Linked DNA regions of Homo sapiens. The protein of the gene in region 6 purifies or fractionates together with the protein of the main gene of each other region. This does not show direct contact. Each region holds a gene or a part of one and is shown on either strand. Other genes may lie near its edges.

The links.
Region 1: the proteins of PFAS (region 6) and RPIA fractionate together in Homo sapiens (co-fractionation; one large-scale study listed by BioGRID). This does not show direct contact.
Region 2: the proteins of PFAS (region 6) and RAP1GDS1 fractionate together in Homo sapiens (co-fractionation; one large-scale study listed by BioGRID). This does not show direct contact.
Region 3: the proteins of PFAS (region 6) and PEX7 purify together in Homo sapiens (co-immunoprecipitation; one large-scale study listed by IntAct). This does not show direct contact.
Region 4: the proteins of PFAS (region 6) and G6PD fractionate together in Homo sapiens (co-fractionation; one large-scale study listed by BioGRID). This does not show direct contact.
Region 5: the proteins of PFAS (region 6) and SLC19A3 fractionate together in Homo sapiens (co-fractionation; one large-scale study listed by BioGRID). This does not show direct contact.
Region 7: the proteins of PFAS (region 6) and OSBPL11 purify together in Homo sapiens (co-immunoprecipitation; one large-scale study listed by IntAct). This does not show direct contact.

Annotation. Positions count from the first base shown.
Region 1 is NC_000002.12:88,743,673-88,747,172, reverse strand, and holds part of RPIA (ribose-5-phosphate isomerase), read right to left. Parts: intron 1-3,500. UniProt on the Homo sapiens protein: Catalyzes the reversible conversion of ribose-5-phosphate to ribulose 5-phosphate and participates in the first step of the non-oxidative branch of the pentose phosphate pathway.
Region 2 is NC_000004.12:98,267,487-98,272,139, reverse strand, and holds part of RAP1GDS1 (rap1 GTPase-GDP dissociation stimulator 1), read right to left. Parts: intron 1-4,653. UniProt on the Homo sapiens protein: Acts as a GEF (guanine nucleotide exchange factor) for the Rho family of small GTP-binding proteins (G proteins) that stimulates the dissociation of GDP to enable subsequent binding of GTP.
Region 3 is NC_000006.12:136,870,373-136,875,025, forward strand, and holds part of PEX7 (peroxisomal biogenesis factor 7), read left to right. Parts: intron 1-1,825; coding exon 1,826-1,881; intron 1,882-4,653. UniProt on the Homo sapiens protein: Receptor required for the peroxisomal import of proteins containing a C-terminal PTS2-type peroxisomal targeting signal. Specifically binds to cargo proteins containing a PTS2 peroxisomal targeting signal in the cytosol.
Region 4 is NC_000023.11:154,536,513-154,541,165, forward strand, and holds part of G6PD (glucose-6-phosphate 1-dehydrogenase), read right to left. Parts: intron 1-4,653. UniProt on the Homo sapiens protein: Catalyzes the rate-limiting step of the oxidative pentose-phosphate pathway, which represents a route for the dissimilation of carbohydrates besides glycolysis.
Region 5 is NC_000002.12:227,707,273-227,711,925, reverse strand, and holds part of SLC19A3 (thiamine transporter 2), read left to right. Parts: intron 1-4,653. UniProt on the Homo sapiens protein: Mediates high affinity thiamine uptake, probably via a proton anti-port mechanism. Has no folate transport activity. Mediates H(+)-dependent pyridoxine transport.
Region 6 is NC_000017.11:8,265,759-8,269,260, reverse strand, and holds part of PFAS (phosphoribosylformylglycinamidine synthase), read right to left. Parts: intron 3,400-3,502; coding exon 3,244-3,399; intron 3,028-3,243; coding exon 2,908-3,027; intron 2,761-2,907; coding exon of another isoform or gene 2,738-2,760; exon of another isoform or gene 2,509-2,737; coding exon 2,363-2,508; coding exon of another isoform or gene 2,351-2,362; exon of another isoform or gene 2,234-2,350; coding exon 2,026-2,233; intron 1,890-2,025; coding exon 1,798-1,889; intron 1,711-1,797; coding exon 1,596-1,710; intron 729-1,595; coding exon 405-728; intron 308-404; coding exon 1-307. UniProt on the Homo sapiens protein: Phosphoribosylformylglycinamidine synthase involved in the purines biosynthetic pathway. Catalyzes the ATP-dependent conversion of formylglycinamide ribonucleotide (FGAR) and glutamine to yield formylglycinamidine ribonucleotide (FGAM) and glutamate.
Region 7 is NC_000003.12:125,528,964-125,533,616, reverse strand, and holds part of OSBPL11 (oxysterol-binding protein-related protein 11), read left to right. Parts: intron 1-1,602; coding exon 1,603-1,756; intron 1,757-3,036; coding exon 3,037-3,102; 3' UTR 3,103-4,653. UniProt on the Homo sapiens protein: Plays a role in regulating ADIPOQ and FABP4 levels in differentiating adipocytes and is also involved in regulation of adipocyte triglyceride storage. Weakly binds 25-hydroxycholesterol. Interacts with OSBPL9 to function as lipid transfer proteins.

The DNA.
Region 1 (3,500 bases), on a different chromosome or scaffold from region 6:
ATAACTCCATTGACCTGAGAACCACTCCCCAACCCCACACAGTGGCCACAGCAAGCCCTGCCCAAGGAAAGTCTGACTCAGACCCACCTAACTCTGCCCTAACCTGATGGTTTTTCTCTACCTGCCCTGGTAGCCAAAGACAAAAGACATAAACTCTTGGGAGCTCTATGGCCCTGCCCATTACCTAAGAAACCAAAATACTTATCCTGGCCTACATAGACAAGCTTGTATCCCCCCTATACTACTACAGCTGATGCTTTCTTGAAAGCACCACCTCCTCGCTGAAGGCCAACCAACTCAAGCCACTACAGAAACTCGTAACAGAACAACCCTGCTCCAAAAAGGGAAAAACAACAGCTAATTCCACCGCCTGCAACATCCTGGCTAACCAGAGATCCTGAGTCTGTCCACATGGCAACTTCACTGCTAGCATAAACCAGCATTCAAGAAAACCAGTGCACTAAACAAAAATACAACCAGGGACTCCCACAGAGTCCACTTCACTCTCCTGCCACCTCCACCGAAGCAGGTGCTGGTATCCACAGCTCGGGGACCTAAAGACAGATCACATCACAGGACTTTCTGCAGACATTCCCCAATACCAGCCTGGAGCCCAGTAGCCGCACTGGGTGGCTAACCCCAGAAGGGCATAACCACTGCAGTCCAGCTCTCAAGAATCCTCATCCTTAGGGGAAGGCGAAGAACACCCCATCAAGGGATCACCCCATTGGACAAAAGAATCTGAACAGCAGCCCTTGGGTTCCAGATCTTTCCAATGAAACAGTCTACTCAAATGAGAAGGAACTAGAAAACAAATTCTGGTAATACGACAAAACGAGGTTCTACAGCACCTCCCAAAGATCACACTAGCTCTCCAGTAACGGAGCCAAACCAAGAAGAAATCTCTGAATTGCCAGATAAAGAATTCAGAAGGTTGATTATTAAGCTACTCAAGGAGGTACCAGAGAAAGGTGAAAACCAACTTAAAGAAAATTTAAAAGGACTCCAGAGAAACAGATATCATAAAGAAAAGATAATCAAACTTCTGGAAATGAAAGACACATTTTAGAAATGCAAAATACACTGGGAAATTTCAACAACAGATTAGAACGAGTAGAAAAAAAGAACTTCAGAGCTCGAAGACAAGGCTTTCAAATTAACCTAATCCAAGAAAGACAAAGAAAAAAAGAATCAAAAAAATGAACAAAGCCTCCAAGAAATTTGGGATTATGTTAAACAATCAAACATAAGAATAACTGATGTTCCTGAGGAAGGAGAGGAGAGAAATCAAAAAGTTTGGAAAGCTTACTTGAGGGAATAATTGAGGAAAACTTTCCTGGTATTGCTGGAAATCTAGACATCCAAATAAAAATGCTTGAAGAACACTCAGGAAATTCATTGCAAAAAGATCACCACCTAGGCATATAGTCATCAGGTCATCTAAAGTAAGACAAAGGAAAGAATCTTGAAAGCTGCCAGGCAAAAGCATTAGGTAACCTATAAAAGAAAGCCTATCAAATTAACAGCAGATTTCTCAGCAGAAGCCCTACAAGCCAGAAGGGATTGGGGTCTTATCTTTAGCCTCCTTAAACAAATTAATTATCAGCCAAGAATTTTGTATCCAGCAAAACTAAGCTTCATAAATAAGGAAGAGATACAGTCATTTTCAGACAAACAAATGCTGAGAGAATTCGCCACTACCAAGCCAGTCCTACAAGAAATGCTAAAATGAGTTCTAAATCTTGATACAAAACTCACAATACACCTAAATAGAACCTCCTTAAAGCATAAATTTCACAGGACCTATGAAACAATATCACAGTGCAAAAAAACAAGGTATCCAGGAGACAACTACCATGATGAATAAAATAATACCTCATATCTCAATATTAACGCTGAATGTAAACTGCCTAAATGCTCTACTTAAAAGGTACACAATGGGCCAGGCTTGGTGGGCGGCCAAGGCAGGCAGATCACCTGAGGTCAGGAGTTTGAGACCAGCCTGGCCAATATGGTGAAACCCCGTCTCTACTAAAACCACAAAAAAATTAGCCAGTCATGGTGGCGGGCACCTGTAATCCCAGCTACTCAGGAGGGTGAGGCAGGAGAATTGCCTGAACCTGAGAGGTGAAGGTTGCAGTGAGCCAAGAACATGCCATTGCACTCCAGCCTGGGCAACAAGAGTGAAACTCTGTCTCAAAAAAATAAAAAGATACACAATGGCAGAATGCATAAAAATCCACCAACCATGTATCTGTTGTCTTCAAGAGACTCACCTAACACATAAGGATTCACATAAACTTACTGTAAAGGGGTGGGAAAAGATACTCCACACAAACAGAAACCAAAAGCAAGCAGGAGTAGCTATTCTTCTATGAGACAAAATAGACTTTAAAGCAACAAGTTAGAAAAGACAAAGAGGAACATTATATAATGATACAAGGATTAGTCCAACAGGAAAATATCACAATTCTAAATATATATGCACCTAATACTAAAGCTCGCAAATTTATAAAACTGTTACTACTAGACCTAAGAAATGAGATAGATGGCAATACAATAATAGTGGGAGACTTAAGTACTCCACTGACAGCACTAGACAGGTCATCAAGACAGAAAGTCAACAAAGAAACAATGAAATTAAACTATACTCTGGAGCAAATGGACTTAACAGATATCTATAGAACTTTCCGCCTAAGAAGTACAGAATATATATTCTTTTCTTCAGCCTGGAACATTCTCCAACATGACAGGCTACAAAACAAGTCTCAATAAATTTTAAAAAATCTAAATTATATCAAGTACTCTCACAGATCACAGTGGAATAAAATTGGAAATCAACTCCAAAAGGAACCCTCAAAACTATACAAATACATGGAAATTAAATAATCTGCTCCTGAATGATCTCTGGGTCAACAATGAAATCAAGATGGAAATTTAAAAATTATTTGAACTGAATAATAATAGTGATACAACCTATCAAAACCTCTGGGATACAGCAAAAGCAGTGCTAAGAGGAAAGCTCATAGCCTTAAATGCCTAAACCAAAAACTCTGAAAGAGTACAGATAATCTGAGGTTACACTTCAAGGAACTAGAGAAACAAGAACAAACCACACTCAAACCCAACAGAAGAAAAGAAATAACTAAGATAAGAGCAGAACTAAATGAAATTGAAACAAAAAATACAAAAAAGATAAATGAAACAAAAACCTGGTTCTTTGAAAAGATAAAATCGATAGACCATTAGTGAGATTAACCAAGAAAAGAAGAGAGAAGATCCAAATAAGCTCAATTACAAATGAAATGGGAGATACTGCAACCAATACCACAGAAATACAAAAGATCATTCAAGGCTACTATGAACACCTGTATGTGCATGAACTAGAAAATCTGGAAATATACAAGCCTCTTAGATTAAAGCAGGAAGAAACAGAAACTATGAACAAATCAATAACAAGCAGCGACACTGAAACAGTAATTAAAAAAACTGCCAACAAA
Region 2 (4,653 bases), on a different chromosome or scaffold from region 6:
GCCTACAAAGCCTGAAATATTTATCATCTGGTCCTTTATGGAAAAAGCTTGTCAGCCTATGCTTGATGGTGGTGCTGTTCCCAGTGTGGCATCACCTGGGAAGGTCTTGACAATGCAAATTCTCAGCCCACCCCACATCTATTGAACCAGAACTTCTGAAGGTGGGCCCAGTATTTTTTAAAAACAAGCTCTTCAAGTGATTCTATGCAAGCTGAAGTTTGAAAACCATTGCTCTAAATCAGGATGTTGGAGTGTTAGTTGTCCCCTTGGATAAATTATTTAATTCTTTGATTTAGTAAAATGGAGACAGTGTCACCTACTTCATAGAATTGTTGAAAGGATTAAAATTCAGTTTTAAAAATATGTAAAGTGTAGCATAACTCACATCAATCATTCTTAATAAATGGTAATTATGAACTCAATGGTATACAGCCCCCTATACTACCCCATGAGATATAATTATTAAATTTTCAGGATTTTTATGAGGCAGTTATTAAAACATAATTATATATACATAAATGAGTTATACTAAAACAGAAGAATTAACACTCAAAACCATCACTACTTACTTTACATTTTACTATTATATGTGCTAATGAGATTATGTCTGTATGGTGGATATGGTATATAATGATGTGCTACCTCTTATCTCTTCTCAACTCTGCATTCAGTGACACTATTTTAGCGGCTTGAAATGAGCCATGGGGGGAGTATTTACACCACAGGAAATTGACAGCCATCACAAATCAGGGCTATTTTGGAGAAAGGCGTTTAGTTAAACATTTACCAGCACCCCTCTAATTATCATTATTAAAAATTATAAAATGAGTTTTATTTTGAACTCAATGAGTTTAATTAGTAGAGATGTCTACTAATCTGCTAAATACAAAGATGTAGCCCAGATATTAATAAATATATTTCAGTACCAATAAGTACCTAAAGTCATTTTGTGAACAAAAAGGACTTTGGAATTAACAAGTACTGTTGACCCTTGAACAATGCAGGCACTAGGGGTACCAATCCCCCTCTCACTCAGTCAAAAATCCACACATAACTTTTAACTCCCTAAAACCTTAATAGCCTAATGCTGACCAGAAGCCTTACCAATAACATAAACAGTCAATTAACACATATTATGTATGTTATATGCATCATATACCATATGCATCAAATACCATATTGTTACAATAAGGTAAGCTAGAGAAAAGAAAATGGAAGGAAGAGAAAATGTATTTACTGTTCATTACATGGGAAGTGGGTCATCATAAAGGTCTTCATCCTTATTATAGTCACTCTTGAGTAGGCTGAGAAGAGGAGGGGTTCATCTAGCTGTCTCAGGTGTGGCAGAGGTGGAGGAGGTAAAAGGGGAGGCAGGAGAGGCAACTCACTTGGTATAGCTTTTATTGAAAAAAAAAAATCCACATGGAAGTGGAACTGCGCTGTTCAAATCCATGTTATTCAACGGTCAACTGTACAGCCAATCATAGCTAAGAGCTCAATTTAACCACTTCCATTTATCACTAACCTAGTCCTTGGTTTTAACTCCTGAAATGCTTCTAGTTACAAAAGCTATATAAATAGAAGCACTGAGAGAATTATTTCACCTGCAATTTGAATCCAGCATCCATATCTTAGCCAGCTTGAGAAATGTTTTTTTAGGTCATTTATTCAGACAAAGCTAAAGTTGGTTCAAACCCTTAAGTTGCTACCTCAAGTATACATTACCATTTGAACACTAAAGAAAAACAAGTTATATAGAGGTTATATTTAAGATACCAATGATATGGAGTATATTTCAAACTTCAGTTTCAAGGAATCACAGGCTTTTATAACTGAAATAGTCTTTATAACTATATGGTTTGAATGTTTTTGTCCCCTCCAAAACTCATGTTGAAACTTAAACACAACAGTACTGGAAGGTAATGGGAGGTGTTTAGGTTATGATGGCTCTGCCCTCATAAATAGATTAATGGCATTATAAAAAGAGCTTACCAGAGTGGATTTTCTCTTTTGCTTTTCTGTTGTGTGAGGGCACAAGGTTTCTCCTCTTTGGAGGACACAGCAACTAGGCCTCATCTTGAAACCAAAGACCAAACCTGCAGGCACTTTGATCTTGTAGTTACCAGACTCCAGAACTCTGATAGAATAAATTTCTGTTCTTTATATATTACCCAGTCTGCAGTATTCTGTCATAGCAGCACAAAATGGACTGAGACAATAACCTATTCTAATATATTCATTTATTATTTACATCTAGGTAAATACAGATTGAGTATCCCTTATGCAAAATGCTTTAGACCAGAAGTGTTTCAGATTTTGAAATTATTCAGATTTTGGAATACATGCATGATACTAACTGGTTTAACATCCCTAATCCAAAAATCTGAAACCAAAAATCCAAATGCTGCAATGTGCATTTCCTTTGAGTGTCATGTCAGCATTCAAAAAGTTTCAGATTTTGAAGCATTTCAGATTTTGAATTAGGGATCCTCAACCTGTATTTTTATTTTATTTTAGCTACTGAGTTGTATGAGTTCCTGATTATTTTTACGTGTTAACCCCTAATCGGATATACGGCTTGCAAATATTTCCCCTCATTATGTAAGCTGCCTTTTCATTTTGTTGTTTCCTTTGCTACAGAGAAACTTATTAATTTGATGAAGTCCCATTTGTTTATTTTTGCTTTTGTTGCCTGTGCTTTTGGTGCCATAAACAAAAAATCATTGCCAACACCAATCTTATGGAGCTTCTCTCCAGTATTTTCTTGCGCGCATCTTATGCTTTTCAAATTCAAATCTTTTGTTTAAATCTCTGACCCATTTTGAGCTGATTTTTGTATATGGGATGAATAAGGATCCAATGTCATTCTTCAGTATGTGGGTATCTAGTTTTAACAACAGTGTTTATTGAAGAGATTGTCCTGTCCCCATTGTGTTTCCTTGGCTTTTTTTTTTTTTTTTTTTTTTGAAGATCAATTGACTGTAAATTCTTGGGTTTATTTCTGGCCTCTCTATTCTGTTCCATTGATCTATGTGTCTGCTTTTATGCCAGTACCATACTGTTTTGATCACTACAGCTTTGTAACATGACTTGAAGCATGTAGTGTGATGCCCCTGGCCTTGTTCTTCTTGCTCAAGATTATTCTGGCTATTCAGATCTTTTGTGGTTCCATACAAATTTTAGAATTGTTTTGCTATTTCTGTGAAAAGTTTCACTGGAATTTTGATAGGGATTACATTGAATCTGTAGATCACTTTCAGTACTATGAACATTGTAACAATATTAATTCTTCCAATTTATGAATATGGGATATCTGTTAATTTTTCAAATTCTTTCATCAATGTCTTACAGTTTTCAGCATAGAGATCTTTCACCTTCTTGGTTAAATCTATTCCTAAATATTTTATATTTTTGCAGCTACTGTAAATAGGATTGTTTTCTTGATTACATCCTCAGAAAGTTTGCTGTTAGTGTATAGAAATGCTTCTGATTTTTCTATGCTGATTTTGTATCCTGAAACTTTACTGAATTCATTTATTAGGACTAATAGTTTTTGTCTTTTTTTTCAAGGAGTCTTTAAGGCTTTCTATGTATAAGACCATGCTATCTTTAAACAGATCATTTTACTCTCCAATTTGAATGCTTTTTAATTTCTTTTTCTTGTCTATTTGCTCTGCTAGGACTTCTAGTACTATCTTAAATAGCAGTGGCAAGAGTGGGCATCCTTGTTTTTTTTCTCAATCTGAGATAAACTTTTCAGATTTTCACCATTAAGTATGATGTTAGCTATGGGCTTGTCATATAGGACCTTTACTATGTTTAGGCATATTCATTCTACACCAAATTTGTTGAGAGTTTTAAAAATGAAAGTATGTTGAATTTTGTCAAATGCTTTTTCTGCATCAACTGAGATGATCGTATGATTTTTGTTCTTCATTCTGTTAACGTGGTGTATCACATTTATTGATTTGTGTATGTTCAACCATTCTTGCATCCCAGGGATAAATCCCACTTGATCATGACGTATGATCCTCTTAATGTGATGAGACTGCAAATCAAACCACAATGAGACACCATTTCACACCAGTCAGAATGGCTATTATTAAAAAGTAAAAACAAACAAACAAAAAACAGATGCTGTAAGGCTGTGGAGAAAAGAGAATGTTTTTACACTGTTAGTGGAAATATAAATTAGTTCAGACACTGTGGAACGCAATTTGGAGACTTCTCGACGAACTTAAAACAGAACTACCATTTGACCCAGCCATCCCATTACTGGGTATATTTCCAGAGAAAAATAAATCATGCTACCAAAAAGGCACATGCTCTTGGATCTTCATCGCAGCACTATTCACAATAACAAAGACATGAAAACAACCCAGGTGCCTATCAATAGTGGATTGGATAAAGAAAATGTGACACATATATACCATGGAATACTATGCACCCACAAAAAAGAATGAAATCATGTCCTTTGCAGCAACATGGATGGAGCTGGAGGCCACTATCCTAAGCAAATTAACATAGAAACAAGAAATCCAAATACCACATGTTCTCATTTATAAGCGGAAGCTAAGCACTGGGTGTACATATGGACATAAAGATGGGAACAACAGATACTGGGGACTACTAGAGGGGGACAAATGGAGGGAG
Region 3 (4,653 bases), on a different chromosome or scaffold from region 6:
AGAGATGGTTAATTCTTTCTTTTTCCTAACATGATAACATACATGACTGTTCACAGATGTTTGGGATATAGAAAGTTTTCTACTCTGTGAACAGCAGAGGATGAGGTAAATTTTTAATGATGGTCTCAGTAAATTTATCTGGGTTATAAGATGACTTAGGTTGGTTTCCTGGCTTTTATATTTAGGCAGGTTCTGCTAAATGACTGTGGAAAACATCTTATTAAGTGACATCTCCCAATTTCATCCTTTTGTTTTTTTACGTTAAGGATAAAAAAGTACCTTATTGATTATTTTAATAAGGTAATTATGTTATTCCTACTATTTAAAAAATTCTAAATTTTTTTTTCTTTTTTTTTGAGATGGAGTCTTGCCCTGTCACCCAGACACGATCTCAGCTCACTGCAACCTCTGCCTTCTGGGTTCAAGCTGTTCTCCTGCCTCAGCCTACTGAGTAGCTGGGACTACAGGTGTGCACCACCATGCCCGGCTAATTTTTTTGTATTTTTAGTGGAGACAGGGTTTCACAGTGTTGGCCAGGCTGGTCTTGAACTCCTGACCTCAAGTGATCTGCCTGCCTTAGCCTTCCACAGTGCTGGGATTACAGGCTGAGTCACTGTGCCTGGCCAAAAATTCTAAATTTTTAGTTAAGTTAATATTTTAAGTTTCTCTGGCTGCAATGCAACATAGGAGACACAGTGCTCTGTTTTATTTTTTAATAAATTTGTTTAATTGGACAAGTTTTAGCAGTTGAAAAATATGCTCTATGTATATTTTAGAGTGATTATGAGAATGAAATAAGGTAATGTAGTGAAAGTACTTTGCAAACTAAGTGCTGGTCAAATGTAGTTATATATGTGTATTTAACTATTAAAGTGCGATAAGACAAACACTGAAGAAATGTAATTGCAAAGGTCAACTTATTAAGTACATTATTACTCATCTAGAAGACGTTACTTGTCTTTAAACTTGCTTTTTACCCTTGATATAATTTTCCATTAGCTGTAATATACAAATAACGTAAAAATAACTTAAGGGTGTTTTTATTTAACATTTAAATGTTTATTTTGATAACGTGATTATAGCAATCATATATTTGTAAAATTGGTAAATTATATAATTATATATTTGTACTCTTATATACTTAAATCCCTTATATTTGTAAGAATCATTTTTGTTTATTACTTTGTTTGCTTTTGCTTTTTTTGAGCCAGAGTCTCTCTCTGTCGCCGGGGCTGGAGTGCAGTGGCATGATCTCGGCTCACTGCAACCTCCACCTTCTGGGTTAAAGCAATTCACCTGCTTCAGCTTCCCCAGAAGCTGAGATTATAGGCATATGTGCCACCATGCCCATCTAACTTTTGTATTTTTAGTACAGGCGGGGTTTCACCATGTTGGCCAGGCTGGTCTCGAGCTCCTGACCTGAGGTGATCTGCCCTCCTGAGCCTCCCAAGGTGCTGGGATTACAGGTGTGAGCTGCTGCATCTGGCCTGTAAGAATCATTTTTGGATAGCCAATATGAAATTGTATTTAATTTTTCCAGAATAGCAACATTTTGGGAATATTTTATTCTAAATAAGTTCTAAAAAGCTTGAGGGATAATTTTCTTTGGAGAATGTAAAAATATTTTTCCTGAAGATGGATACTTATAAGGCCAGAAGATTTTTGCCTCAAATTATAGCATATATGCTTTGAAAAAGCATAATTTTAAGTGACAGCTCTGACTCAACTTAAATTTATTATAATGTTTATGGAATGATCATAGAAAGCAGTGTTATAATCACAGCTGACTTCAAAAAGGGTTTTTTTTTTCTTTTTTTTTTTGTAGTTTTCACCATTTCATGCTTCTGTGCTGGCCTCTTGCTCGTATGATTTTACTGTAAGGTACAGTGGTTTTTAATACATTTCATTGTGAAATACCAGGTAACATTTGCATCTTTGCAACTTTTATAAGAGATAATATGATTACTCTTACTAACATGAAAATAATCTGAGATGGGTACATTTAAATATTTACTAGGATTAATATTATATTTTTCCTGTTTTCGTGATCCAGTCACATATATGAGTAAATTTTTTCTCTTCAAATATTAGCCTGGCTATTCTGTTTAAAAGCCATCTTTTCTAATAGATGTTCCTATGGTAACACTTTCCTACACTATAGATGGCATAGCCAATATATTCTAAATTTAGATATAGAAATTTGGAAATTGCATTTCTTCAGGTCTAATTATATGAGTCGTAAGGCTAAGATTGCTTAGATGAAAAAACAATGAACATGAGTGTATGATTTTTTGTGAATGTAGATATATGAACATGTATGTGTATATATGTGCATGGATATCTAGATAAGAGTGTGTGTGGGTGTGGGTCTCTATTTATACTTCCAGTTACAGTTCCATACCACAGAGGATTTATTTTCCCTTTCCAAATTTGTAACTCTTGACTTCCATTTTATTCACAATATATTTTCTTATGTGTTAAACCCTGTAATGCTTAGAAAGTAGTTCAGAATTGCAAAGCCATACCTTTGAAAAAAACAATCTTACTAATTAGAGCTCAGCACTTGCTTAGAGTTTTTTTTGTCTTTAGTTTGAATACTATATTCAGAAGTTACTTAGGTTAATTCTCCTCTTCTCTGTTAGAGTGTGGTTATGTTATTCACTTGAAACATGGTTTGATTCCTTTGTTTCTGTTTGTATTCAATTTTAGGGTTTTCCTCCCATCCTTGTTGATTTTGTCTAGGCAAAACATTGACATGGTTTCAAAAGTCAAGATGTACATAAAGATATATTCAGAAAGGTTTCCAGGATTTTCACTAAAATATATCCTGGAAATCATTCTGTATCAAAGAGATCATTCTCATTCTGCATAATACACCATTGTGTGGATGTGCTATAGTTTATTTGGCTACCCTCCTATCTATGGACATTTAGCTTGTTTTCAATGTTTTGTAAATAAACAGTGCCACAGTGAATGATAGCTTTGTGTTACTAGAGAATTAATGTCTGGTATTCCTAGAAGTGGGATTGCTGAGTTAAAAGGTAAACATATGTAGTTTTGTTAGATATTACCAAATTCCCATCCATAAGGAATATGCCAATTTTGATACTCAGTAGCAATGTTTGAGAGTACCTGTTTCTCTGCCTTCTAAAGATCATTGATTCATTAAGGTTTTCCAGATGTATGATCTTATCACCTGCAAATAAAGGTGGTTCTACACCTTCATTTCCAATTCTGATGCCTCTAATTGATTTTTCTTAAAATTCCCTCCACAAATACCACTAATACAGTGCTAAATAGTTTATAGAGAATGTCTGATTCCTGATATGAGTACAAACGCCTTTAGTGTTTCTCTATTAAAAATAAGATTCTGACTTTAATGCAAATTATATATGTTTACTTGTTTGTCATACTAAGAAAGTATGCATGAATTCCTATTTTCTTGAGTTTTTTTAATTAGGAATGGGTCTTAAGTTTTGTTGAAGGCTTTTTTTCCCAGCATTTATGGAGATAATCATGATTTTTCTTCTTAGAGATATGGCTATGATGTATTATATTAATGGATTGAACCAACCTTGCATTCCTGGAGTAAGTCTCTCACGTTCTTTGTGTATCATTTTCTCACCATGGTGTTGAATTGTGTTTGCTAATATTTTATTTAAAGCTTTTGCGTCAATATTCAAAGGTGATATTAGTTGCAGTTTTCTTTCTTTTCTCGTTTTGTTTAATGTGTCTGTGTTTTACTTGCTTCATAAAAAGAATTAAGAAATTTTCCTTTGTTTCCAAAGCTCTGGAACAACTTGTACAGCATTGAGGCTATTTGGTCTTTGAATCCTTTGTAGGATTGCTCTGCAAAACTAGTGGAGCATGGTGCTTTTTGTGGAGTACTTTCTTGATAACTTCATTTCTTTCATGGAAGTGAGTCTGTTTAAACTTTGTATCTCTAACGGGATCAAGTTTGGAAATTGTCCCTTGCTTTTAGGTTTTCAAATTTATTCGTAGAGGTGTCTGTAAAGTGGGTGGACACAGTGGCTCATGCCTGTATTCCCAGCACTTTGGGAGGCCAAGGTGGGCAGATCACCTGAGGTTAAGGGTTCAAGACCAGCCTGGCCAACATGGTGAAACCCTGTCTCTACTAAAAATAGAAAAATTAGCCACGCATGATGGCAGGTGCCTGTAATCCCAGCTACTTGGGAGGCTGAGGTGGAATTGCTTGAACCCAGAAGGCAGAGATTGCAGTGAGCTAAAATCATACCACTGCACTCCAGCCTGGGTGACAGAGTGAGACTTTGCCTCAAAAAAAAAAAAAAAAAAAAGTCTATAAAGGAATGTTGTAGGATTTCTTCTCTTTCATTGGTTGTTTTACTCTTGTTATTTCTGATTTTGTATCTTTAATAAGTTCTTTGAATATCTAGTGGTATGTTTATTTTGTTATTTTTCTTCAGCAGGCAGAATTTTAATTTATCAATTAGAACTACTTTTTTCAGCTGGGTGCAGTAGCTCATGCGTGTAATCCCAGCACTTTGGGAGGCTGAGGCGGGTGGATCACCTGAGGTCAGGAGTTCAAGACCAGCCTGACCAACATGGTGAAACCCCGTCTCTACTAAAAATACAAAATTAGCTGGGCGTGGTGGCACATGCCTGTAATCCCTG
Region 4 (4,653 bases), on a different chromosome or scaffold from region 6:
AATAAGGAGCTAAGCATTCCACTTAAGAAGTGAGAAAAAGGGCCAGATGCGGTGGCTCACACCTGTAATCCCAGCACTTTGGGAGGCTGAGGCAGGCAGATCACCTGAAGTCAGGAGTTCAAGACCAGCCAATGTGGCAAAACCCCATCTCTATTAAAAATACAAAAATTAGCCAGGTGTGGTGGCAGGCACCTGTAATCCCAGTTACTCAGGAGGCTGAGGCAGGAGAATCACTTGAATCCGGGAGGCAGAGGTTGCAGTGAGCCGAGATCGTGCCACTGCACTCCAGCCTGGGTGACAAGAGTGAGACTTCATCTCCAAAAAAAAAGTGAGAAAAAGATAGAACTGCAAGCCAAATTACCAGGAAGAAAATAGGAAATAATGACAAGTAAAATTAATAAAATTAAAAGCTAACCCAAAGAAAAGATGAACAAAGCTGGAAATTGGTGTTTGAAAAAGACGAATAGAAACAGACAACCCCCTGGCATGGTTGCTTTTTTAAAAGGGCATAGGCCGGGCACAGTGGCTTACTCCTGTAATCCCAGCACTTTGAGAGGCCGAGGCAGGCGGATCAAGAGGTCAGGAGATCGAGACCATCCTGGCTGACACGGTGAAACCCCGCCTCTACCAAAAATACAAAAAATTAGCCAGGCGTGGTGGCGGGTGTCTGTAGTCCCAGCTACTCGGAAGGCTGAGGTAGGAGAATCACTTGAACCCGGGAGATGGAGGTTGCAGTGAGCCAAGATTGCACCATTGCACCCCAGCCTGGGCGACAAGAGTGAAACTCCGTCTCAAAAAACAAAAAACAAAAAAACAACTAAACAGCTGGACGCGGTGGCTCAAGCCTATAATCCCAGCACTTTGGAAGGCCGAGGCGGATGGATTACCTGAGTTCGGGAGTTCAAGACCAGCCTGACCAACATGGAGAAACCGTTTCTACTAAAAATACAAAATTGGCTGGGCATGGTGGCCCATGCCTGTAATCCCAGCTACTCAGGAGGCTGAGGCAGGAGAATCGCTTGAACCTGGGAGGCGGAGGTTGCAGTGAGCCAAGATCAAGCCACTGCACTCCAGCCTGGGCTACAAAAGCGAAACTCCGTCTCAAACAAACAAAAAACAGAGCAATGGACCTGAGAGGGGACAGTGGCCACAAATCTTCCTACAGAAACAACCCCCTGGCATAGAGAGTGTTGCCAGTGGGTTCTACCAAAATGCAAGCACAAGAGAATTCCAGCCTGAAGCAAACTCTTCCTGCAGAAGGAAGAAAGGGGAACACTTCCCAAGCCACCTTATGGGGCCTACAGAGCCTTGGTACGGAAACCTGATGAGAAAGGCACATGGGAAAACCCATACGCCTCATTCACACACACATGCAGATGCAGAAATCCCACACGAAATATCAGCAGGCCGGGCACAACTCACACACCCCAGCACTTTGGGAGACCAAGGTGGGAGGAAGATTGCTTGAAATCAGGAGGTTTTTTTTTTTTTTTTTTTTTAAAGACATGGTCTCACTCTGTCACCTAGGCTGGAGTGCAGTGGCACGATCTCAGTTCACTGCAACCTCTGCCTCTGGGCTCAAGCAATCCTCCCACCTCAGCCTCTGGAGTAGCTGGGACTACAGGTACATGCCAACACACCCAGCTAATTTTTTGTATTTTTTGTAGAGACAGGGTTTCCCCATGTTGTCCAGGCTGCTCTTGAACTCCTGGGCTCAAGTGATCTGCCCGCCTCAGCCTCCCAAAGTGTTGGGATTACAGGCGTGAGCCACGACGACCCACTGACCCTGTCTCTTTAAAAAAAAAGAAGAAAACATCAGCAAACCAAATCCTGCAATGTTAAAAACGGTAGGTTTTTTATTTACAGAATAAATACATCTGTAAATAAAAAGTTGGTTTGATATTAACAGAAAAAAATCATTGAAATTCACCATATTAAGAGATTAAAAAAAACCTCTAAGAACTCTCTGCCTACTGCTATGTTTTGATTTTTTAAATCTAGCAATCTTGCTCAACCCAACAGATGTAGATCAAGTGTTTCAGAAATCACCTATTCACGCTAAAACTCTTAGCAGAGGGGGAATGCAAGGGAACTTCACTAACTTGATAAAGGGCATCTATAAAACACCATTCTGGCTGGGCGTGGTGGCTCAAGCCTGTAATCCCAGCACTTTGGGAGGCCGAGGCGGGGAATCGCTTGAGGTCAGGAGTTTGAGACCAGCCTGACCAACATGGTGAAACCCCATTTCTACTAAAAATACAAAACTTAGCTGAACATGGTGGTGTATGCCTGTAATCCCAGCTATTCAGGAGACTGAGGCAGGAGAATCGCTTGAACCAGGAGGGAGAGACTGGAGTGAGCCGAGATCACACCACTGTAGCCTGAGCAACAGAGCTAGACGTCGTCTCAAAAAAAAAAACCACCACCAAAAAACAAAGAACAAAAAAACCCCCAAACCATCATCCTTACAAATACTACAAATATCACACTTATAGGAAATGCTGAAATATTAATCATCCCTTTAAGCAATCAGGAACAAGAAAAGTGCAGTAAGGCAAGAAAATGAAAATGGCTGAAGTTGAGCTGTGAGGTGGTGCGGGTGCTCCCTCTGATCAAGTGAAACACACACCTATCCTGTGACCTGGCCGTTCCACCCCAAGAGAAATGAAAGTGCAAGTCCACACAAAGACCTGCACACGAATGGTCACAGCAGCCTTGGTTCATAGCGGCCCCAAACTGGAAACAAGTCAAACACTTGAATTAACATGTGACCCGGCAAACTGTGCATTCATACAACGGATACTACTCAGCAACACTGGGAAATCTCAGCATCAGAGATGCAACCCATTGTGACAGAAATCAGATCAGCGGTTGCCTGGAGCAGGGCAGATTGGCTGGGAATGGGTACCCAGGAACTTTCTGGGGAGATGACGATGGCCTTTATTGTGATGAGGGTGTACAGCCAATTGTACAGTTAAGATTTGCGCACCAACAAAAGACGGCGAGAAAACCAACAATGGAGCGGAGGGTGGGGAGTGGGTCAGAAATGACCCTTTGAGGGCCAGTGACTGTGAGAGCCCCAGGTGAGGGGGCTTCCTGGGTGCAGAGCATATTCTGTTTCTTGATCTAGGAGCAGTTTCTGTGGCTGTGCTGAGTTTGTGAAAAGTCATCAACAAGCTAGACCTGCACCATCTGTGTTCTTCATGACATGTATTTCTTTTTTTTTTTGAGACGGAGTCTCACTCTGTCGGCCAGGCTGGAGTGCAGTGGCGTGATCTTGGCTCACTGAAATCTCCACCTCCTGGGTTCAAGCCATTCTCCTGCCTCAGCCTCCTGAGTAGCTGGGACTCCAGGCACCTGCCACCACGCCCGGCTAATTTTTGTATTTTTACTAGAGATGGGGTTTCGCCATGTTGGCCAGGCTGGCCTCAAACTCCTGACCTTGTGATCCACCTGCCGTGGCCTCCCAAAGTGCTGGCATTACAGGCGTGAGCCACCGTGGCCGGCCCATGACATATATTTCAATAAAACATGGTAAAAACTAATAGTCTGGGCGTGGTGGCTCATGCCTGTAACCCCAGCACTTTGGGAGGCTGAGGAGGGTGGATCACCTGAGGTCAGGAGTTCGAGACCAGCCTGGCAAACATGGTGAAACCCCGTCTCTACTAAAAATACAGGCCAGGCGCGGTGGCTCATGCCTGTAATCCTAGCACTTTGGGAGGTTGAGGTGGGTGGATCACGAGGTCAGGAGATTGAGACCATCCTGGCCAACATGGTGAGACCCCGTTTCTACTAAAATACAAAAAATTAGCTGGATGTGGTGGTGCGCGCCTGTAGTCCCAGCTACTCGGGAGGCTGAGGCAGGGGAATTGCTTGAACCTCGCAGGTGGAGATTGCAGTGAGCCAAGATTGCGCCACTGTACTCCAGCCTGGTGAAAGAGCAAGACTCCATCTCAAAAAAAAGAAAAAACAAAAATTAGCTGGATGTGGTGGCAGGCACCTGGAATCCCAGCTACTCAGGAGGCTAAGGCAGGAGAATCACTTGAATCCAGGAGACGGAGGTTGCAGTGAGCCAAGATTGCGCCACCAAACTCCAGCCTGGGTGACAGCAAGACTCCATGTCACGAAAAAAAAAAAAAAAAAACACATGCTCTTCGAAGCAATCAGGCACTGCAACCATGGATGGGTCCATTTCTACAAACCATTACAGAATGGGGGCCATGCCACCAGGTCAAACGCCCTCACCCAGAGCCAGGCAGTTAGGAAGCCACCACAGGGCTTCCAGGAGGGCAACTGCTATGGTGTGGGTGCCTTGTGTGCTTGCGCTCTTCAGGGGCCCTGCTCCACTTCTGATGCTCCTCAGGTGAGCTCGGTGCCAGGACTACAGCGACACGGACCTCTCACTGCTGCACCCTTCAAAGTCCAGCAGACAACCCCTCGCCCTGGGGTAGGAGCTCCTCTACTCAGCTCCTCACAGCACCTGCCATCAGTGGGGCTGGGGAGGGGAACGTTGCCCATGTCACATCAACTCACGGCTGGCCCCACACAGAAAGGGTCAGCTTACTGGGAACTAACTGGACCCTGAAATAAACGGAAAGAACCACAGCCTGCAAATACCTCTAAGCCTCACTCAAAGCAGGTCATGTTTGCTCA
Region 5 (4,653 bases), on a different chromosome or scaffold from region 6:
GGCTTGTGCCACCACGCCTGGGTAATTTTTGTATTTTTAGTAGAGACGGGGTTTCGCCATGTTGGCCAGGATGGTCTCAAACTCCTGACCTCAAGTAATCCACCTACCTCGGCCTCCCAAAATGCTGGGACTATAGGCATGAGCCACGGTGCCCAGCCTCCTTTCCATTCAGTTTCTTAACAGTACCTCTTGATAAGCAGATGTGGCTTTTTGATGAAATGCAATTTATCTTTTTTTTCTTTTAAGATTCTTTTTATTATTTCAAATATGTGCCAGTCCCTAGGTAACGAAGATCTGTTTCCTTCTGGATGGCATGCTGTGGTGTTAGTATTTGTTATGTCAAATTAGTTTTTGTGTATGGAGTGAGGCAGTGATCAGTAAGATGCATTTCAAGTAAGATGAAGTTACAGCCAGAATACAATAACTCCCTAGAAGTTGGTGGAACCACCTTCCAATTTTTATTTTATTTTATTATTTTATTTTATTTTATTTTATTTTATTTTTTTGAGACAGAGTCTCGCTCTGTCACCCAGGCCACAATGCAGTGGCACTATCTTGGCTTACTGCAGCCTCCACCTCCTGGGTTCAAGAGATTCTTGTGCCTCAGCCTCCCAAGTAGCTGGGAGTATAGGAACCCACCACCATGCCCAGCTAATTCTTTTGTATTTGTATTAGAGACGGGGTTTCACCATTTTGGCCAGGCTGGTCTCGAACTCCTGACCTGAGGTGATCTGCCTGTCTCAGCCTCCCAAAATGCTGGGATTAAAGGCGGGAGCCACCGCGCCTGGCCACCACCCACTAATTCTGACTGCAGCAGAACGACGGTGGTTAAGCAAGACCCTGGAATCCTTTCCCCTGCCTTCCTTCAGGACCATCTTGCCCTGACTTAAGCTGACTGCAGCCCTTTGCTTTATTTGAATGTTTTACTGAAAGTTATATTCTCTTCTATTTTAGTAATAAGCAGATTAAAAGGCATAATTAGTTTGTCTGCTCTGATATGTCAGCTAAAAGCAAATATTTTTGTTTTTAGTAATCAGACTTTGAGTTTGCTCTGTCTAGGGAAGGGCTTGACTCTAGCAGTGTTGAAAGCCTGGGAGGTGGGCTTTTTGGAAACTGTAACTGATATAACATAAAATGTATTTGGTCTTTAAGCTAAAACTTTTGGGAATTCCTGAGTAACAGGTGTCTTTTTATTCATAATGACCCTCTTTGATAACGTGTTTATGCTAATAAGATAGCTTGGAGTGGGGTCCATAGATAGTCTAAAAACTGGGGGGGAAGGAGCTGAAGATCATGCTCTGTAAGATTCGTTTTTCTTTTTTTTAATATTTAAAGAGATGGGGTCTCTATGTTGCCCAGGCGGGTCTTGAACTGGCTAATTTTTATATTTTTAGTACAGACCGAGTTTTGCCATGTTGGCCAGGCTGGTCTCGAACTCCTAACTTCAGGTGATCCACCCGTCTCGGCCTCCCAAAGTGCTGGGATTACAGGTGTAAGCCACCGCACCCAGCCTTATTTTGTATTTTTGTAGAGATGGAGTCTGGCAAACATATAATTACCAATTTATTGCTCTTCTGTTTGAAAGAAGTGTTTTGACTGCAGTAAAGTTCTAGCCTATTGTGAAAATCAGGCTAGCCCATTTCTCAGATGGCTGCCTGGCTAGACACCCTCTCTGAGATGGCTGGAATGATTAGTAGAAAGGAGTGGGCAGGAAGTAGGTGGAGAGTGGGGATTCTAGATCAGGGGTCCTATGGCCTGTTAAGAACGGGCCATTACAGCAGGAGGTGAGTGGCGGGCAAGCAAGCATTACCACCTGAGCTCCGTCTCCCGTCAGATCAGTGGCGGCATTAGATTCTCCTGGAAGTGCAAATCCTACTGTGAACTGTGCATGCAAGGGATCTAGGTTACGAGCTCCTTGTGAGAATCTAATGCCTGATGATCTGAGATGGAACAGTTTCATCCCAAAACCATTCCCCCTAACTCCTCCCCCATTTTTTCATGGAAAAATTGTCTTCCATGAAACGGGTTCCTGGTGCCAGGAAGGTTGGGTACCACTATTGTAGATAATTTCCTTCCAAATTACTGGCATCTGGGTTAATTCTGGCAGTATTGTCAGTACAACATGGACGAGGACTTGATAAAGTGATTTCTTTCCACCCACCCAATATCTTGTTCTTCTCCAGGCAGTCAGTTGTGGGAAACTTATCAGGTTTGAGGGAGTTACTTGCTTTCATCAGGTCACCTTGTCCCCTACCTCAGGGAGCCCCACAGCTCTGAGTGCTTTGGCTGTGGGAGAATTCCATCCTCTGGGTGTGCAAGTGGGTGTGTATGGGTGGAGGAATCTGACCAAATAAGGCTTTACCTTAGCTAGAAAATCACCCTGGCTTCAGGAAACCCACCAGTGCATGCCAGCTTTGCAGTTCTTTTGTTGTTGTTGTTTTTGGGACAGAGTCTCGCTCTGTCACCCAGGCTGGAGTGCATTTGCTCAATCTTGGCATTTGCAACCTCCACTTCCCAGGTACAAGTGATTCTCGTGCCTCAGTCTGCCAAGTAGCTGGAATTACAGGTGCCCGCCACCATGCCTGGCTAATTTTTGCATTTTTTAGTTTGAGACGGGGTTTCACCAATGTTGGCCAGGCTGATCTTGAACTCCTGACCTCAAGTCATCCACCCGCCTCAGCCTCCCAAAGTGCTGGGATTACAGGCATGAGGCACAGTGCCCGGCCTCAGTTTCTGCAGTTCTTGCTTTTTAACAGTTGTTTACCCTACAAAAATGGAAAATATACTTGGAAATATTTGTGGACATAGGGCTTTTAAGTATATGCACTTAGAGATAGATACAGACAACCTATGGATTAGGAAATAGGACACTATCCATGTCTGAAATTTAAATAAGGTCCAAATTAGCTTAGATCCAATATGATTCCCCAATGCATATATGAACAATACGTGAACATTGTTGTGTGCACAACTATGGAAAGGTCTTAATCCGCACAGTGACTCTGAGATAAGACTCACTGAAGGAAATACAGCAGCAAACCCAGGAGATGTGAGTTCCAATCTTCATTTGTAACTCACTCCAAATGAGATCCTAGCAATGAAGTAATTTTTTTTTGTTTCCCACTAAAAACAAATAAACAAAAACCTTAGTTTTTCTATGCTACAGAATTAGGATGACAAATGAACTTATCTTGCAGTCACTATAAGAACACTGACAGTTTCAGAGATAGTATTAAAAATCAACTAAACACTTATAATTATTGTGAAAGCATTTATCTATCAAAGAAGGTTAGCCTGCAGCCAGTTGGAAAGTTTTTTTTGTTGTTTTTTTGGTTTGTTTGTTTGTTTGTTTGTTTGTTTGTTTGATAGAGACAGGGTCTCACTATGTTGCCAGGCTCTCCTGGGCTCAAGCAATCCTCCCGCCTCAGCCTCCCAAAATGCTGGGATTACAGGCATGAGCCACCGTGTCCGGCTGCCAGGTGGAAAGAACAATTTAAGGAGATGGTTAAAAGTGGAAAAGCCAATAACATGGTAATAATTGAAATAAAAGAAGAAAGAAAAAATTGAACTCTGATACAAAGAGACTACAACTGTGTAATAGGTTGCATAAAAAGAAATTTTGCAAACATGTAATAGGTTGCAAGGCAGATAAAAACAAAAATCATGAGAAGCCACTCCTGCCAAATTCATTCATAGTCAAAATACAAGTTAACTTTTGTGGGAGATTAAAAAAAAGAAAACTAAGAGCATTTTAAAATGAAGTAGGATTAGGTATGCTAGCAAGAGAGTTTTTTTCAAAAGGCTGTGGCACCCCACGTACCCCAAAGAAGGGGAGCCAGCAGTAAACAATGTGGCCTTATGTGGAATACATGGCAATGGGCTCCAAATACAGATTCAGGCTGGGCGCGGTGGCTCACATGTGTAATCCTGGCACTTTGGGAGGCCAAGGCAAGTGGATCACCTGAGGTCAGGAGTTCAACACCAGCCTGGCCAACATGGTGAAATCCCGTCTCTACTAAAAATACAAAAAACTAGCCAGGCATGGTGGCAGGCACCTGTAATCTCAACTACTTGGGAGGCTGAAGCAGGAGAATTGCTTGAACCTGGGAGGCAGAGGTTGTAGTGAGCTGAAATTGCACCACTGGACTCCAGCCTGGGCAATAGAGTGAGACTCTGTCTCAAAAAAAATAGAGATTGAGAGAAGCTGGAGGCCAAACAGTAGAGAACTGAAGCATCCCTTGGTGGGACAGCTGTGGCTTTTTTCATAATATGAAAAATAATTATTTCCATTATTTTTTAAATTTGTTTTTTTTTATTATATTTTATTTTATTGTATATTTTTTGAGAACAGGGTCTTGCTCCGTTGCCCGGCTGGAGTGCAGTGGCACCATCTCAGCTCATTGCAACCTCCGCCTTCAGGTCTTCAGTGATCCTCCCACCTCAGCCTCCCAGGTAGCTGGGATTACAGGTGCGCATCACCATGCCTGGCTAACTTTGTATTTTTGTAGAGACAGGGTTTCACCGTGTCGCTCAGGCTAGTCTCGAACACCTGAGCTCAAGCGATCCACCTGACTTGGCCTCCCACAGTGGTAGTATTACAGGCATAAGCCACCGCGCCTGGCTGAAAAATAATTATTTTTCTACCAGCAAAAG
Region 6 (3,502 bases):
CAGCTCCCTTCCAGGGTCCAGTTTCGGGCATTGATAAAGAGCTGGAGCCAGGGGGAGGTGGTCAGAGTATCAAATGGAGGGGGTCGCCATGCCCACTGCCAAGGCCTAACGGCCCGCTCAGGGTGAGGCATGACAGCCAGGTGGCGGCCATCACAGGAGCAGATGCCAGCCACGCCCCCTGGGGACCCATTGGGATTCAGAGGGTACTGCTCTGTGGGGTTCCCGTCATCATCAGCCCAGTGCAGTGGAGCCAAGCCCCTGGCCTCAATCTGAGCTTGGAGTTCCGGAGAAGAAAATGCTACGTAACCTGGGATGGAAGGAGGAGGGAAGTGAGAGCCAAGGTCCTTCATGCCCACCCTTGCCCCCAACCCTCGGGCCCTCCCCCAGCCTTCCTTGGGCCTGACCTTCCCCGTGCGCACTCCACACGGGCAGCACGGCGCCCTCCATCCCTCGCAGCATCAGGGCTGGCCCAGGCCCCACACGCACGCTGGCCCAGCGAGACTCGTAGCGCCCAGACAGGTTGTGGCGTAGCAGAAGGCCTGGCCGGGCTGGCTGGGAGTCAGGGCCCATCTCTGCAGCATCCTCATTGGGGTCGCCTCCCACCCAGCCGAGCAGAGCCAGCAGTTGACAGCCATTACACACGCCCAGGCTGAAGGTGTCTGGCCGCTTCCGGAAGCGCCTCAGCTCAGCCCCAGCCCTGGGATGAAAGGTCACAGCAGCTGCCCACCCTAGCAGGGAATAGGGAAGTCAGGGTGAGACATGGAGGACCTCAAAAAAGGGAATTGGGAATGAAGGGGCATAACTGCTCTGTTTCTTTTCTTTTTTCTTTCTTCCTTTTCCCTCCCTCCCTCCTTCCTTCCTTTCCTTCTTTCTTTTTTTTTTTTTTTTGAGATGGAATCTCATTCTGTCACCCAGGCTGGAGTACAGTGGCATGATCTCGGCTCACTACAACCTCTGCCTCCTGGGTTCAAGCGATTCTCCTGCCTCAGCCTCCCAAGTAGCTGGGATTACAGGCGCCCGCCAGCACGCCTGGCTAATTTTTGTATTTTTGCATGCCTGTAATCCCAGCTACTTGGGAGGATGAGGCAGGAAAATCGCTTGAACCCAGGAGGTGGAGGTTGCGGTGAGCCAAGATTGCGCCATTGCACTCCAGCCTGGGCAACAAGGGTGAAACTCCGTCTCAAAAAATACATATATATATATATATATATTTAAAAATATACATATTTTAATAATATATAAATAATATATATAAATAATATATTTTAATAATATATAAATAATATATATAAATAATATATATTTTAATAATATATAAATAATATACATTTTAATAATATATAAATAATATATATAAATAATATATATTTAATAATATATATTTTAATTACATATGTGTATATATATACTTTTTTTCAATGAAAAAATTAAAAATTTACTACCAGCCTTCTGTTGGCATGTGGCCCAGAACGAATGGGCCCACTCTCTCGTAGCTCGGTGGAGTGAGAGGCCAATCCCCAGCCCAGGAAGATGGGGCTAAAGGCACCTCTTCAGGAATGTGGGGGAAGGGAGTGGGCAGAAGCCTGCACACTGACCTTTGGCAGAGCCCAGGACATCTGCATAGCTGAAGCCGCCCACGAAGGCCACGCCACGGAAAGTGTCCAGCCCAATTGCCCCAGAGCAGAGGTCCTGCATGGTCACGTCCCATACCTGCGAAGGTGGGGAGGGGGAGTGTGGGTGGGAGGACACGCAGCTGAGGCTGGACAATCACCCCCAGCTGCCCCCTACCCTGCTCACCTCAAACCCAGCTAAGTGGAAGGCATCGGCCATCTCCCGGTCTCCATTACTGCCCTCCTCTCGCAAGATGGCGACTCGGGGGCTGGGACCACCTTGGGGGAGAATAAGTGTCTTTGGGCCAGAAAGTCACTTCCCCACCCCAACTCCCCAGACACCTTTCTGAGGGCAGGCCCAGGCATCCAGGCTCAGTGCCCCCAGGACGCGGAGCCTCTGCACACACTCCCTCACCAGGCTCACGGGGCACGGAGGCTTTGGGAAAGGTGGGGGGCAGGCAATAGCTGGGCCCCATCCGCTCCCTCAGGCCCCGTTCCTCCTCTGCCACACAGCGAGGCTCTGCCTGTAGCCGGTCCAGCTGGAAACTCGTCTCCTCCCAGAGGGCTCGCAGCTCCCCAACAGGCTCCTCCAGAACCACAGCCCCGTTCACTGACACCCGGACCTAGGAAGAGGAACAAATCTCCCACGGGCTAGGAGAAAGGATGGCCCCCTCCACAGTGGGAGAGGGATGGACCGCGGCCACCCCACTCTGACTGCCCACTGCACACCGCTCTCTCCCTCACTTCCTCACCATGGCGTGGGGCCCGGCCTCGCCTGTGTGGCCCAGCTCCAGGCAATGGAGGCCAGCATCCCGGTAACGCTTCAGCACCTGGGCCAGGTCTGGCTCCTGCACCTCCAGCACGAGGCCTGGCTCCTCAGCGAACAGCACAGACAGGACTGGGAGAGCAATGTGGGGAGTCAGGGGGATGCAAGAAGGGCCAAGGGAGTTGGGGCGGGATCAGGGAAATGCAGGAAGGGCCAGGGTGAGGGTCAGAGGGATGCAGCCAGAGAGTAGGGTAGGGATCAGGGAGGATGAGGGCTAGGACGGCAGGACTGAGGATGTTTCATCATGGACATCTCAGGGATGGGAAGTCTCAGAGGGGTGCAGTCAGGAACATGGTGGGTGTCAGCCAGTTCCATCCAGTTCAGCTGTCAGAGAGACAGCACAGAAAAGCTAGTCAGGGAAGACTCAGGGAAAGGGGACTGGAGGGCACTCCACTCTTTAATATATTGGAAATGGGGTCTGCAGGGTAGAGAAGGCAGCCCGGGCCTGAGACTAGACCCCAGGTTCCTTACCATCAACCCTGGGGACAGGCACATCCACCTGTAGCCCGCAATTTCCAGCAAAGGCCATCTCCAGCAGGCATGTGACGAGGCCTCCGTCACTGACATCGTGGCCTGAGCAGAGGAGGCGGTCTGGAGGAAGGAGAAGAAAGCTCAGCAACCTCGGGACCCAAACCTGACAGCCCCACCCCACCTTCCGGAGTCAGTCCATCAAGAGTGTGTGTCAGAATGTCAGGGGATCTGGGGTACATCGTCCATTGGAGTCCCTTTTGCCCCACTGCTCAGATGGTGAACGCCTGCTGCACGCCTGGCACCCTGTGCGCTATCTCCCCAGGGGTCTTCACTCACCTTTCAGCAGCCCCTGAGTGATGCTGAAGGCCCGCACCAAGTTCTCAGGAAGGTCCAGGTCTGGAGGGTGTTCCCCAAGCTGGGAGAAGCACTGGGCCAGAGCTGTGCCCCCGAGCCGGTGCTGCCCAGGGCTCAGAGCCACATAGAGCAGATGGCCTGGGGAGACGGGGAGGGGTGAGGGGAGGGGAACAGCTCAGGAGGACCCATCCCTGAGGGGCTCACAGCACTGCTATTCCCAGCATGTGGTGAGACACCTAGA
Region 7 (4,653 bases), on a different chromosome or scaffold from region 6:
CATATTTTTTTAAAAGGATATTTGATACTTGATTTTCAGAAATGTGTTAGGAAACCTTTTGGAGCCATTAAGATACATATGTAGCCTTAATTCTTTAAATTATAAGACCTTTGGCATACTATCCAGCACTTTGGGAGGCCGAGGTGGGCGGGTCATTTGAGGTCAGGAGTTCGAGACCAGCCTGGCCAACATGATGAAACCCTGTCTGTACTCAAAATACAAAAATTAGCCGGGCATGGTGGTGCACGCCTGTAGTCCCAGCTACTCAAGAAAGTGAGGCAGGAGAATTGCTTGAGTCCGGGAGGCAGAGGTTGCAGTGAGCTGAGATGGTGACAGTGAGACCCTGTCTCAAAAAAAGAAAAAAGAGAAGAGACGAGAACAGAAGAGAAAGAGGGAGGGAGGGAGAGAGAAGGGAGGGAGGGAAGGGGAGGAAGAGAAGGAAGGGGGGAGGAAAGAAAGGAAGAAAGAAAGAAAAAACAGATGTTTAGTAACTTTCTCGAGTAGTACAGTCATTACCATAAATAAGTTTTAGAATATTTTCATCCTACCGTAAGATCTCTCTTGTTCATTTACAGTTAATCCCCATTACCCCCAGCCCAGAGAACCACTAACTTTCTGTCTCTATAAATTTGCCTTTTCTGGATATTTCATATAAATCATACAATGTGTGATCTCTTATGCCTGGCTTATTTCCTTAGTATAACGTTTTTGAGGTTCATCCATGAAGTATTAATTGCATGTATCAGTGGTTCATTGCTTTTTATTGCTGAATAGTATTGCACTGTATGGATATATCACATTTTGCCTATCCATAATACTGCTGTGAACATTCTCCTACAAGTCTTTGTATGGACATTTATTTTCATTTTTCTTGGGTAAATACCCAGGAGTGGAATTGCTGGGTTTATGGTAGTTTTATGTTTAACTTACTACATTTTTTTCACATGTATATCCAGTTGTCCCAGCACCATTTGTTCAACAAACAGTTCTTTCCCTAAAGAAGTGTTGTGGCAGTTTTTTTTTGTTTTTTTTTTTTTTTGCTTGAGATTTGTTAAGCTTCCCTCTCCCTGTGCGTGGCCTAGAAACACTCTGGACAGCGAGTTAGAGCACTCATAGGACTCCCCTCATTTGTTTCCTTTCTCAAGGATCACTGCCCTGCACTGCCTTTTGCTCAGTATCTGAAAACCACTATTGTATTATATGTTGCCTGGTTTCCTGGTTGATGAAGGCAGGAAAATAAATGTGTTCCCCATTATTTCATCATGTCCAGAAGCACAATTAGTCTTGCTTACATTTCAACTTTGAAAATTTACTTCTCTTTTTACTCGTTAATTTCTAAGTTTTCTAAAAACAAAAAATCCTGCTTTTATAACCTGGAAAAATACAAATTATTTTTAATTTAAAAAGAAGCAGAAGGAGCAGCATCCTGGACATAACCATCAGCAGCACAGTATCGTTATTCTTGGAATTCATAAGCATGACATTGTAGATGTGATTTAGGAAACGTTATTTTATAAAATTATTGTAATTTTGAGGGTATTGATTCTATTTAATTATCTCTTTTAAAGAATGCTTGTAAAATGTGTGGTTTTTGGATTTCAGGCGATTGTGGAAAAATGTGACAGACTCGCTGAGAGAATCTGAAATTGATAAGGCCACAGAGCATAAGCATACCCTGGAAGAACGTCAGAGGACTGAAGAAAGGCATCGTACTGAAACAGGCACACCTTGGAAAACCAAATATTTTATTAAAGAGGTATGCTGTACATGTGTTCAAGATAAAAATGTATCTACTTGGCTGAGAACTTTAGCTTACTAGGCTTTGTTGAATTGCTATCACTTATACATCTTTATTTTTAAAAGTAGTATGGCTGTATATAAATACCAACTGTTTTTGAGACCAGCCTGGGTAACCTATAGCAAGACTCTGTCTCAAAAAAAAGGCAGATATACCAAGAACAGATTCTAAGAAAGAAGAGTTTCTAAGTGAGAACATCTATATATCATTAAAAATGAGCTAGGGGGTGGCCGGGCTCGGTGGCTCATGCCTGTAATCCCAGTACTTTGCGAGGCCGAGGCAGGCGGATCACCTGAGGTCAGGAGTTCGAGACCAGCCTGACCAACATGGAGAAACCCAGTCTCTACTAAAAATACAACATTAGCCAGGTGTGGTGGTACATGCCTGTAATCCCAGCTACTCGGGAGGCTGAGACAGGAGAATTGCTTGAACCCAGGAGGCGGAGGTTGCAGTGAGCCAAGATTGCGCCATTGCACTCCAGCCTGGGCAACAAGAGTGAAACTCTGTCTCCAAAAAAAAAAAAAAGAAAAATGAGCTGGGGGGCCTGGCGCGGTGGCTCACGTCTGTAATCCCAGCACTTTGGGAGGCCGAGGCGGGCGGATCATGAGGTCAGGAGTTTCAGACCAGCCTGGCCAACATGGTGAAACCCCCATCTCTACTAAAAATACAAAAATTAGCCGGGTATGGCACGTGCCTGTAATCCCAGCTACTTGGGAGGCTGAGACAGGAGAATTGCTTAAACCAGGGAGGCGGAGGTTGCAGTGAGCCAAGATTGTGCCACTGCACTCCAGCCTGGCTGACAGAGCAAGACTCCGTCTTGGGGGAAAAAAAAAAGGAAAGAAAAAAAATGAGTTCTGGGGTGCCAGTGGAGACAGGGAGAACAGTTAGTACCTTCCCGATCATTTCTCTGTACTCCACCTGCTGCCCATAACTCTGTGAGTGAGGCTCAATCTGTAGCATCTTGGCGAAATTGGCAAAATTGCTACAAATGGTTCTTGCAAAATTAAATGTTCATGGGTCACAAACTAGATCCTCCCATACCATGTCTTCTCACCTAAATCCTAGCTAAACCACAGGCATCGTTTGATGTCTTAATCACAAAGACTTTATTCCTTCACAAAAACTTGTTTTTGAATGTGAAAATAGAATTCCATTTCAGTGAAGGTGTTGCTTCTAGTTTTGGTTACTGATTTTGATAATATTAGAGGGATGATTCTTTATCTTTTTATTTGTTTCAGGGAGATGGCTGGGTTTATCATAAACCACTTTGGAAAATAATTCCAACAACACAACCAGCAGAGTGACACATACTATCTAAAACTCGACCAAATGAGGTTCTTCTCTGTTTACCCTAAATCCTCCCAGAATGGAGTCATTGCACTGAGTGACCTGCTTCCTGATTGCGCAGACTGAAACTAGCTAAACCTGAATGTACCTACTAGGGCACCATAATACTGCAGCAAGACCAAAGTGGTAAAGAAACACAGTGGACCTTTTACCAACCTGTTCATGTGATGTGAGCAATACCATCTTAAAACTTGTTACCTGAATCAGTAGATGAATCTTTTATCCAGTTCTTGCTCCTAAAGTTAAGTTTGAATCCCCTATTTTTGCACAGGGGCAGCAGATACACACAACAATGAGAACTCAGTGACTTTGATTTCTTTGTAGTGAAAAGTGAAGTCTCCGTTTCAGAGTTTGTGTCTTTCTTTCTGTCCATAACTGAAGTATTCACTACTCTTGTAAACCAACCAAGAGGAGGAGAAAGATGACCCAGAAGTGGATTCAGCCATTGTGCCTGAAATCAGTGTTTAAAAAAAAAAATCAACCAGGTTGTGGTAACAAGGCATTCTATTTCTTCAAAAAGACTGTATGCCTGTGTCTGAGGAACTTACCTATTATCCACCTCTGTTGGAACTCTCTTTTAAAAAGTACATTTATAGATTGATCAGAATTATAACCATGGAGAATTTTTTCTTCTGAGCATTTTAATATACTTGAAAACAACATTGACTTGAAAAATTTCAGAACATTTTTCAGTACCTAGTTTTATTAAATATTACACTTGAGAGACACTTTTTAAAAATGTGTTAATGTCAATATGATGAGATTTTAGCCTTTCTCCAGAACTAAGGCATTAAAGAAAATAGCAAATATTAAAAAATAAAACTGTTACTTTTTTCCTTCTTTCTTTTCACCTTTAGGTTAATATCCAGTATTATGTGTTATCCCTTTGGATAAGTATGCTTTATTTTACCTCTGTTAAAAATTAAAATAAATGATTCTATTCATATTTGTCAGTAATTCAAAACTTATATGTGTAACTGAACGCGCATGTAAGGTATGGTTTTATTTATTTTTTTTTTTTTTGAGGAAATTTAAATGCTAAAGAAACAACGAAATGAAAAGGTATCAGGAAAAAAAGATCAGGAAGTTGTATTCAGGTACAAATCTTTTTTTAAATAAGTATTTTGTTGAGGTTGAAGAATTGCTGGCAATTAAAAGAATAGAGCTAATTATGGCTTTCATCATTCATTCATGTATTTATTGAGCACCTACTTATTATGGTGCTCAACACTTGTTACTGCAAGCTACCTTAATTTCCCAAGAGTGGTGCCTTACTCTGTTTTTTCTGATATGGTCTTCCAATCAGTGTGTGTAACATACCTGTTGTTTATCAGCCATTGTAGGTGGCTGTGTCTGTTGCATCATCATAAGAAGTTTAAGCTTTGTGCTCTGATAAATTGTGTTCTGTTAAAGAGGTTAGTAGGATGAAAACAGCAAAACAATAATTTTTTCAACAAATTGTAAATTATAAGAAAAAGAGTTGGTTTGTGTACAACAATTTTAATGAT